Regions from separate parts of the Homo sapiens genome. Here region 1 is linked to region 2. The links come from fine-mapping of genetic effects on gene expression. A gene starts in region 2. The other region holds a variant in brackets. All regions are shown on one strand. Distances are between the middles of the regions.

What was found. PIP is the estimated chance that this variant, and not a neighbour inherited with it, causes the effect.
Region 1: its variant is the best candidate, but not a certain one, in a credible set for the expression of HOXA10 in whole blood (INTERVAL, PIP 0.57).

Annotation. Positions count from the first base shown.
Region 1 is chr7:26,934,208-26,939,582 of GRCh38, forward strand. No RefSeq gene overlaps it. Among named protein-coding and RNA genes, the nearest start is that of SKAP2, 72 kb to the left of the region's middle. The variant G/GT (reference allele first, on the strand shown) is at 2,208.
Region 2 is chr7:27,171,452-27,176,826 of GRCh38, forward strand. It overlaps HOXA10 (homeobox A10), which reads right to left and starts at 2,869. Exons shown (of 2, transcript NM_018951.4): 1 at 1,898-2,869; 2 at 1-722. The coding sequence starts at 2,855. The coding sequence ends at 448. All of the region lies in intron 1 of HOXA10-HOXA9 (HOXA10-HOXA9 readthrough), which reads right to left. It overlaps HOXA10-AS (HOXA10 antisense RNA), which reads left to right. Exons shown (of 3, transcript NR_046609.1): 3 at 1-464. RefSeq lists enhancers at 69-568, 2,277-2,923, 2,924-3,569.

The DNA of each region.
Region 1 (5,375 bases), 240 kb before region 2:
TCTCACCACTCCTATTCAACATAGTGTTGGAAGTTCTGGCCAGGGCAATCAGGCAGGAGAAGGAAATAAAGTATTCAATTAGGAAAAGAGGAAGTCAAATTGTCCCTGTTTGCAGATGACATGATTGTATATCTAGAAAGCCCCATCATCTCAGCCCAATATCTCCTTAAGCTGATAGGCAACTTCAGCAAAGTCACAGGATACAAAATCAATGTGCAAAAATCACAAGCATTCTTATACACTGATAACAGACAAACAGAGAGTCAAATCATGAGTGAACTCCCATTCACAATTGCTTCAAAGAGAATAAAATACCTAGGAATCCAACTTACAAGGGATGTGAAGGACCTCTTCAAGGAGAACTACAAACCACTGCTCAATGAAATAAAAGACGATACAAACAAATGGAAGAACATTCCATGCTCATGGGTAAGAAGAACCAATATCATGAAAATGGCCATACTGTCCAAGGTAATTTATAGATTCAATGCCATCCCCATCAAGCTACCAATGACTTTCTTCACACAACTGGAAAAAACTACTTTAAAGTTCATATGGAACCAAAAAAGAGCCCGCATTGCCAAGTCAATCCTAAGCCAAAAGAACAAAGCTGGAGGCATCACGCTACCTGACTTGAAACTATACTACGAGGCTACAGTAACCAAAACAGCATGGTACTGGTACCAAAACAGAGATATAGACCAATGGAACAGAACAGAGCCCTCAGAAATAATGCTGCATATCTACAACCATCTGATCTTTGACAAACCTGACAAAAACAAGAAATGGGGTAAGGATTCCCTATTTAATAAATGGTGCTGGGAAAACTGGCTAGCCATATGTAGAAAGCTGAAACTGGATCCCTTCCTTACACCTTATACAAAAATAAATTCAAGATGGAGTAAAGACTTAAATGTTAGACCTAAAACCATAAAAACCCTAGAAGAAAACCTAGGCAATACCATTCAGGACATAGGCATGGGCAAGGACTTCATGTCTAAAACATCAAAAGCAATGGCAACAGAAGACAAAATTGACAAATGGGATCTAATTAAACTAAAGAGCTTCTTCACAGCAAAAGAAACTACCATCAGAATGGTAGTTCTGTAGGCACCCTACAGAATGGGAGAAAGTTTTTGCAATCTACTCATCTGACAAAGGGCTAATATCCAGAATCTACAAAGAACTGAAACAAATTTACAAGAAAAAAAACAAACAACCCCATCAAAAAGTGGGCGAAGGGTATGAACAGACACTTCTCAAAAGAAGATATTTATGCAGCCAACACACACACGAAAAAATGCTCATCATCACTGGCCATCAGAGAAATACAAATCAAAACCACAGTGAGATACCATCTCACACCAGTTAGGATGGCAATCATTAAAAAGTCAGGAAACAACAGGTGCTGGAGAGGATGTGGAGAAATAGGAACACTTTTACACTGTTGGTGGGACTGTAAACTAATTCAACCATTGTGGAAGTCAGTGTGGTGATTCTTCAGGGATCTAGAACTAGAAATACCATTTGACCCAGCCATCCCATTACTGGGTATATACCCAAAGGATTATAAAACATGCTGCTATAAAGACACATGCACACGTATGCTTATTGCGGCACTATTCACAATAGCAAAGACTTGGAACCAACCCAAATGTCCAACAATGATAGACTGGATTTAGAAAATGTGGCACATATACACCATGGAACACCATGCAGCCATAAAAAATGATGAGTTCATGTCCTTTGTAGGGACATGGATAAAGCTAGAAACCATCATTCTCAGCAAACTATCGCAAGGACAAAAAACAAACACTGCATGTTCTCACTCATAGGTGGGAATTGAACAATGAGAACACATGGACACAGGAAGGGGAACATCACACACCGGGGCCTGTTGTGGGGTGGGGGGAGGGGGAAGGGATAGCATTAGGAGATATACCTAATGTTAAATGACCAGTTAATGGGTGCAGCACACCAACATGGCACATGTATACATATGTAACAAACCTGCACGTTGTGCACATGTACCCTAAAACTTAAAGTATAATTAAAAAAAAAAAAAAGAAACTTGGAAGAAAAGAGTTGAGGAGGCAAACACCCAGCAAGCAAAATATATAAATATCTGGCTTCATACTGAACCCCTGAATACTAAATGTGAAATTTTAAGAACCAGTATAGGGGATATGTACTACATACAGCCAAAT[G/GT]TTTTTTTTTTTTTTTGAGATGGAGTCTTGCTCTGTTGCCCAAGCGGGAATGCGGTGGTGCCATCTCGGCTCACTGCAACCTCCCTGGTTCAAGCAATTCTGCTGCCTAAGCCTTCCGAGTAGGTGGGATTACAGGCGCCTGCCACCATGCCCAGCTAATTTTTGTATTTTTAGTAGTGATGGGGTTTCTCCATGTTGGCCAGGCTGGTCTCAAACTCCTGGCCTCAAGTGATGCGCCTGCCTCAGCCTCCCAAAGTGCTGGAATTACAGGCGTGCGCCATTGTGGCCAGCCTCAAAATCACTTTTAGTGCTTTATGGATAAGGAAACAGGCACAGAAAAGTTAAATTACTTGACAAAGATCATAGCTAGTATGTAACAGAATAGACTACAAACAGGTGATCCTCCAAATTTAGTGCTTTTTATTTTGACTGCAACACAATGTTTCTCTTAAAAAAATGTTGATTCAATATAGGGTATATAAATATATTACACATGTAATAAGATATTTATAGATATGTCAGTTAAACTTTCATATCTTTCTCTTTAGCATAAGAAAGTACCAGGTTTACTGTAAGTATAAGAAAAACAGGCTGGGCGTGGTGGCTCACGTCTGTAATCCCAGCATTTTGGGAGGCCGAGGTGGGCAGATCACAAGGTCAAGAGATCGAGACCATCCTGGCCAACATGGAGAAACCCCATCTCTACTAAAAAGACAAAAATTAGCTGGGGGTGGTGGTGCGCACCTGTAGTCCCAGCTACTCGGGAGGCCGAGGCAGGAGAATCACTTGAACCCAGGAGGCGGAGGTTGCAGTGAGCCAAGATCACGCCACTGATCACGCCTGGCAACAGAGCGAGACTTCATCTCAAATAATAATGATAATAATAATAATAATAAAATGGAAAAATATACATCTCAGGAAAAAATTTAAATAATTTTAAATGAGAAACCTAGGATTTATCATATGAACCCTATTTATGTTTATTCTTAGTCACATTGATTCAGTTGAAAAAAGATGCTTCATTTATGACATCTAAAATTCCAACCCATAATCAGAAGCAGCAGAATGGTCATGGTGAAAATATTTGCCCTACATCTGTGTCTACTTAGGGTTGCACATCCAAATCTGCTTGGCATTATTTGTTTAATTTGGAGAAAGGACACCTAATTTTCTTGTTTCCTCATTGACTAAACTGCTGTATACAAGAGAATGGTTTCTGCATTCAGAATGAGTTCCTACATGATTAAGAAACCAATTCAAAGGAATGCTTCTTAAACCTGCAGCAACTTAGCAACTCATTATTATTAATATTTTCATTAAACCATTCAAAGCTTTCTTGATATAAACACAATTTTCTTTTTCTAATCAGTCAGCATATCTGAACATTATAGTTTGTTTGGTTTTTCCAGAGTTCTGGTTGGTTGTTTGCTCTGGGGAATTTGGCCTCTTTTATAAAGTTAATAGTTTGGAAAAGGTACTGTAAGAAAGCTTCTAATGGTGCAATGAGTGTGTTTAACAAGCATTTCCAGGAAAAGATTTTGGTAAGTCACTTGTATGTTTCATCCATAGAAAGCCAAAAATCTAAATGTCATAAACATATTCCTGAACATTTGATAAATGCTATAAATTGGACTGATTGAACTATATAAAATATTCGTAACATTGTTCTACATGTAAATGTATTCCAAGTTCCAGTTTAACTTGCCAGGAACAACCCCTTGGCTGAGAATCTATCTTGTGACCCAGTAGGGAAGCTCTCTCAGCAAGAGGGAGATATTCTTAATAGTTAGTAACCTAACTCTAAATTTGAAAATAGGAAGGAAAATCTTTGGGGCACATACTCCCCTAAAATGATACATATTGTGACCAAAGAGTGATCTAGAAAGAGACTTTCCACTCACTCCCATGAAAAAGTTGTCAGAACTAGACTGTCCTTACCCTTAGGTGTGCACTGCAGCCCAGACTACTCCTCTGAGTCACATTCTAGCTTTCTCTTTCCTGTAACATCTTAACAAGCATTAGCCTGTTAATCATTTTCTAGGGATAGTTCTGGGGCTGGAAGCTGCTGTAAAATAAAGCAATTTGGGGAAAATCTTAAAGATTATCTAGACCAGAGGTACCCAAACTTTCCCAGGTCATAGCACTATAAATGTCTTAAGTAATTTTTCATAGTGCCCCTAGGCCAAAAGAAATAACTAACAGTCTCATTAATTAAGTAGTTAGGTCCAAATACTTAGTAAGTATTTGGGTTCTGATAACTTAGGAGGTGGTCTTACACACACACACACATAGCCACACAAACAAATTAAAACCAAATCATATTTTTACTTAACTTCTAAACAGCCACAATTACTTCCTAATGAGATATGTACCCCTCTTCAGCACTCACATCTCAAACGCTGGAATTAAACTGCACTCCCTTCTTTCTCGTTCTACACTGATTTCTACATAGTACTTGTTTTTATCATAGCAATGACCAAAAATCCAGCTTTACAAAGAGATGGCATTGAAAGACATGTAGTGTGAGCTAATGTTGTGAACTATTGCAAGCTGTTGTTTTGCCTGGTGTCTGAAAAACATCAAGTATCATTCTATTTCCCTTGAAATTTTAAAATGTCCTGCAACACCCTTGTGAGTTAACTGTAGCACCCCAAGGCACCTTGGTCACAGTTTGGGAATTGGGAATCTAATATCCTATTTCATGGACAAGAAAAGTAAGACCAAGAATAGTTAAGAAAATTTTCCAAGATTATCCAGCTAATTAGGTTAAGTAAAAAACAAGAAGTCCTGTTTAAAATACTGAGAATTTAGCCCATGTTCTTAAATTTAACTGGATCCCACAGATCTTGATTCTGCAGAGCAAACCTATGGACATGAAACTAACCCCACCTCCCAGGGCATTCCTGTCTTTGCATTCACTACTAGATGGTCCTCAACACAGTGATTTTTTTTAAGGTGAAAGGAGTTAAGAGAGCTGCATAATAGCACAGAATTAATTATAAGAACCAAGAGTAGCACCTGTCTTCAGACCCTTCATTATGGCTTTTTTTTCTTTCTTTCTTTAGGTGAAGTTTCACTCTTGTCGCCCAGGCTGGAGTGCAGTGGCGTGATCTCGGCTCACTGCAACCTCCACCTCCTGGGTTCAAGCAATTCTCCTGCCTCAGCCTC
Region 2 (5,375 bases):
CGGTGGCGGCTCCTTTGCACCATTGACCTCAGGCCAGACACCTCAGCGCCAACAATGGGACCTCGGCCTTCCGGCTAGGTTTGCCCCAGGCTGGGCAGGAAACCAGCTCGGCCGAAGACAGGGGCCATTTCGAGCAGTGGGACCCCAAGACAGCAAACCCAGCCCAGTCAGGACTTGACACTTAGGACAATATCTATCTCTATAGAATTTTAGCATGATATGGCTTTTTCCCCCAGAAAACAACAAATAAACCAGCACCAAGCAAACACAAAGAAACAAAAAGTCAGAACAAACCAGCCCTGCACAGATGTAACGGCCCAGGAGATGGCGAGTGTGGGAGGGAGGAACAGGGCTCCAGCACAGGTGCGAGTTCCTGGGCAGAGCCTGAAGACAGAGGGAGGGGACCAGCGCTCGGGAAGTGAAAAAACCGCGTCGCCTGGAGATTCATCAGGAAAAATTAAAGTTGGCTGTGAGCTCCCGGATCCGGTTTTCTCGATTCATTTTCTTCAGTTTCATCCTGCGGTTCTGAAACCAGATTTTCACTTGTCTGTCCGTGAGGTGGACGCTGCGGCTAATCTCTAGGCGCCGCTCTCGAGTAAGGTACATATTGAACAGAAACTCCTTCTCCAGCTCCAGTGTCTGGTGCTTCGTGTAGGGGCAGCGCTTCTTCCGACCACTCTTTGCCGTGAGCCAGTTGGCTGCGTTTTCACCTTTGGAATTGCCTGGCATGTAAGAGAATAAAGAGGGGATGATTAAGTCGAGGCCACACGGGCTGCCCGCGGGGGTGAATTGCCTCCGTTTCTCCCATAAGAGAGATGTCCCAAGTCACAGAGAAGAGAGTCGTGCCCCCGTTTTTGGCTTGCTGAGAGCAAGCAGTTCCTCCAAAAGTCATGACAAAAATTGAGTGGGCCTTCAATCTACATGACCCTTCCAATTTACATTTCCCCCACTTTTCCAAACACCTGTTTTAGCGCTAAGCCGTAGATGCTTGCAGAAGGAAAGGCCTGGGAGGGCAGGCTGTACATCTTGAACTTAACGCTTTTCTTTGCCTCTTGCCATATGGCAGACAAGCATTTCCTGTAGCCCCCAGGCTAGGAGCGCGGGGTGCTTACTTGGAAGATGGGCCAGGCAGCTTGGCTGTCTCACCCCAGGGCCCTGATTGCCCAAGACTCGATAAGGGGAGAAAGAAGGGCATCATTGGTCCAATGGGGAAGGCAGGAAAAACCGATTCGGGGGTCAAGGGCCCTCCCTCAAGTTTCTCCAGGAGCCAGGGATAGATAGCTGGGCGATTCCGAGGTCCAGGGGAAGGGAAATGGCCCTTCTCTGGCTCTCAGCTCAGGGCCCCCCGCTTCCAGGCCGGATTTGCCTTTTCTTCTTCCCGCAACGAAGATTCCCGCCCCTCAGCAACTTTGAAAAAAGCATGGGGGATCGTAAACTCGAACTTCGCCGGTTAATGGGCTTATTTATTGGCGCTGGCGGCTGCTTATTTTGGATGCCTTACAAACATCCGCGCTATCTGCGGGCGAGCTACTTTCCCTCCCTCCCCCTCCCCCCGCGTGGGCCGCGCCGCGCAGGCTGGGCAGGGACCAGGGCTCTGGGTCCTCCCGGCCACAGGAAAGAGCGCACAGGAGGGGGCCTGCTCGCTGGTGTCCTCGTCCCTAGTCAGGGGGAGCTGAGGCCAGCGCCGAGGACGTCTTGCTGTGGGGCGCTAAGCCGGACATGAATTTTACTGCGTCCCCACGCCCAAATATTAAAAAGCAAGTTCACAAGGTCAGCCTGCCTGCAGCTTGGGCCAAGGCCGGCCGGCTGCTGCGCGGGCTCCTAGTTTTCTGATCCTTCTCCTCCTTGTGTCTGCCTGTCTGCCCGCCTGACTGCAGCCCTCTGCAGCCCTGCTTACCCAGGGAATCCTTCTCCGGCGAGGCTTTGCTGCTCTCGGAAGGGGCCGGGGAGAGCTCCTCCGCGGCCGAGGACGACGCGTGCGCCTCCTCGTCGCCCTGCGAGCCCCCGCCGCTGCCGCAAGCCAGCGTGGGGGGCGGCGGCGAATCGAGGGCTCGCTCCTTCCGGGCCGCATCGGCCGAGCCGGAGGCTAGCGCGGGCGGGAGATCGAAACCGCGCCCCGGGGGCTGCGCGGGGAACGGGCCAGCCCCGAGTTGCTGCGCGCCGCCGCCGCCGCTGCCATAGCCCTTGGCGGTGCCGTAGGCCTGAGAAAGGCGGAAGTAGCCAGGCACTGGCACCCCGCTGGAGGTGCCCAGGGCGCAGCCGTCGGGCGGCGGGCCCCGCGGGAAGGGAGCCAGTTCGGCGGCGGTGGCCGAGACTTTGGGGCATTTGTCCGCCGAGTCGTAGAGGCAGTAGGAGCTCTCTTCTTTGATGTTCTGCGCGAAAGAGCACGAGGTGGCCTGCGGCGCTGGCTGGGGTGGTTGCGGCGGGGGCGGCGGCTGCTGCTGGGGCGGCGGCGGCGGCCCGTCAGGCGGCTCCATCCGGCAAGACCGGGGCGCGTCTAGCCACAGGTCTATGGGCGAGGGCCCGTAGCCGTGCGCCCCGGGACCTAGACCCCCGCCACCGCCACCGCTGCCCGGCGACGCTGCCTCATTGCGCTTGCCGCCCAGCGTGGGGAAGAGCCCGCAGCTCTGCAGCCCGTAGGGCAGGTCGGCGGCGGGCGGCAGGTAGACCCCGCCGTGGGCGTAGTAACCGCCACCGCCGCCGCCCCCCGCGCCACCACCACCGCCGCCTGCCTCGCCTCTGCCCGAGCTGATGAGCGAGTCGACCAAAAAAGAGTTCGCGGCGGGGCTCTCCGAGCATGACATTGTTGTGGGATAATTTGGCGAAGGGAGCAGATAGCCCTTTCTGGCTGACATTTCTTGTGCAAAACATGCTGAATACGATTAGCAATCCCCCCGCACCGCGGCGGGCGCCCGCAGCCAATCCCGAGCCAGAGTTTCCGCGCGACCACTCCCAGTTTGGTTTCGTAGGCGCGGGGCCGCTCTCCGAGGGCGCCCTCAGAGCCCGCGATTGATATAAATATGTAATCTGTATTGATGGGCCAGGAGACGCACCCCGACACCTTGGCCCGAAGGCCGGGAGCTGTGGGGGCTGCCCCAACGTGGCTGGTGGGGGGCCTGGCCATTGGGCTCGCCCCGCCCCTACCCGGACGTGAGCCCCATACCGGGGTCCCTTAGAAGGGCCCTTGGGCCCCGCGCAGTTAACAAGTGGGGTGTTTATGGTGCGCGCCCAGTCTGCCTTGGGTGCTCACCATCCCTGTCGCAGAAGCTGCCACTAGTCCCCGGTGTACTCTAACCACTGAAGCGGCCGTGTCGGGGACTCACGCGCTTCCCATTCAGCTCTGGATCTGGAACTGGCCCCTTGTCTGAATTCTGCCTCCTCAAAAGTGGCGAACCTGGCCCTATGGCCGTCAGGATCCTCAGAGTGTCAGGAGCCCAGAGTGAACTAGAAGCTGACTTGCCTCTACTTCCAGTATCCACAGATTTTTCCCCAAAATGCAGTGGTTGTTCCCTAGCCCCTAACCCCCAACACTTTTCTCCCCTAGTCCGTTGATCCAGTTAGGATCTTCTCCTCTGGTGTTGTGCTCACCCGGCTTGCCTTCTCTACAACTCCTGTCAGTGGACTTTGGTGGGCTGGCGGGACTGGGGGTGGGAAGCGGCTGCCAGCCTTGATGGAAAGACGGCCCCACTCCCACTCCCAAGGCCAGAGCCAGATCCAAGCATCCCCTCATCACCTAGGGAAGACTCTAAGCCCACAGTCATTTCGGGGAAGTAAAATGCTGGCCTTGGGGTCCTTGGCTGGCCCAAAGTGAGAGACTTGGAGGGGTGTGCCCGGTGTACACCTCCGCTGCTTTATGTTCCTGCTCTCCTGTTAGCTTTGGCACTCATATGCTCCTGGAGGCTACAACAAGAACCAGTGTCACTACACTCCTACCTCTCTGTCCCCTCCCCTCTTCCCCTCCCTCCCATACCCTCAGCTAGGGCAGTCCTTGCTCCTGCAGTGTGTGCATTTTAACGAGGCCTCGGTGAGGAAATCCTTTCCCTGCAAGGCCGGGCTGGGCTCATGGTCCTGTTATAAGAGCATGTGGAGGTCAGGCCCTTTGCTCAGCAGGCTCAGGGGCTCTGTTTTAGCCAACTGGAAATGGCCGGCCTGGGGTGCTAGCCCCCAAGTGTGAGCCTCATGCTAGTCTCAGGAAATGCAACCTTTTCCGGCCAGATCCAGTGGAGCCCGGGAGGTCGCTGCCTTGCCCCTGGCCCGTGGGCTACAGGTCTCCAGGATACTCTAGGCCTGCCCGCCCCTCCGGCCCCAGTCGGAGCTGGCATTACTGAACGCCGGCATCCCAGGAAATAGACCGCTCAGGCCGCTGCCTTCAGCTGGGAAAGACTCTTGCATCCGGGTCATACGCGGCACTTTGCCTCCTTCCTCCCAGTGTGAATCCAGCCCAAGGTGGAAGAGGAGCCTGAGAGGACCCTGAAAGCGCAGAGAGAGCTGGCTAGGTAGAGCTCCAGCTCTGGCTTCTGAGATTCAAGCAGCTGCGGTCGCTGCGGGCAGTGGCTGCTCCGAGCTCCGGGCCCAGAAGGCCGCTCCACCGCTAGCGCGGCGCTCCAGCCACTTCAACCTCGGCGCCCCACGGTGACCCGGCCGTAAGGACTGAGCATCAGGGTGCGGAGGAGGAGGATGGAGAGAAAAAGAGAGAGATAGAAGGAGAGACGGACAGAGGGAGAGAAAAGAGAGAGAAACAGGAGGGGAGAGAGAATAAGAAAGCCAGTTCTCTCCAGCCTGACAGGGTCTTGAAGCTGCAGCAGCGGCTTTAGAGGGATCAAGACAGGGTCTGTGCCAAGAGATCATTAACTCTCCTTCGCTCTTCGCATGCTCCTGCGCCCAAGGCCAAGGCAAATTCTCTACCCTCTAGGCCCATGAGACGGACGAACCTGAGTGCAGAAAAGCTTCAGAGCACCGCAGCCAGTGGCCCTATCTTTAGCTTCCCGGATCTGCCTGGTCCTTACCCTGCTCACCAGAAGGGTGGAACTGGCTGGGACTGTTGCCCTTAGCAATGCCACCTGGAAATGCCACAGAGCTGGGGGCTGCCTAGGAAGGAAGCTTTGCTCTTCAGCACTGCCCATGCCTCTCAGAAAAGCTGTGTCATTTGGCAAGTGGGTCCCAAGACCTTCGAGGTTTCCTCAAGGATAATGAGCCGTGGCAGGTCAGTGGGCCAGGACCTGGGCCTAGAGTCATGCCTCTCCAGGCTAAATGCAGAAAGCAACTTCCCAGGCCGACATCTGGGAAGGTCCAGTATATATTTGAGATAGTGGAGGCTATACAAATAAAGTAAAAGACAATGATCTTAACCTATCTTTCCTAACCTTTTAGGGAGT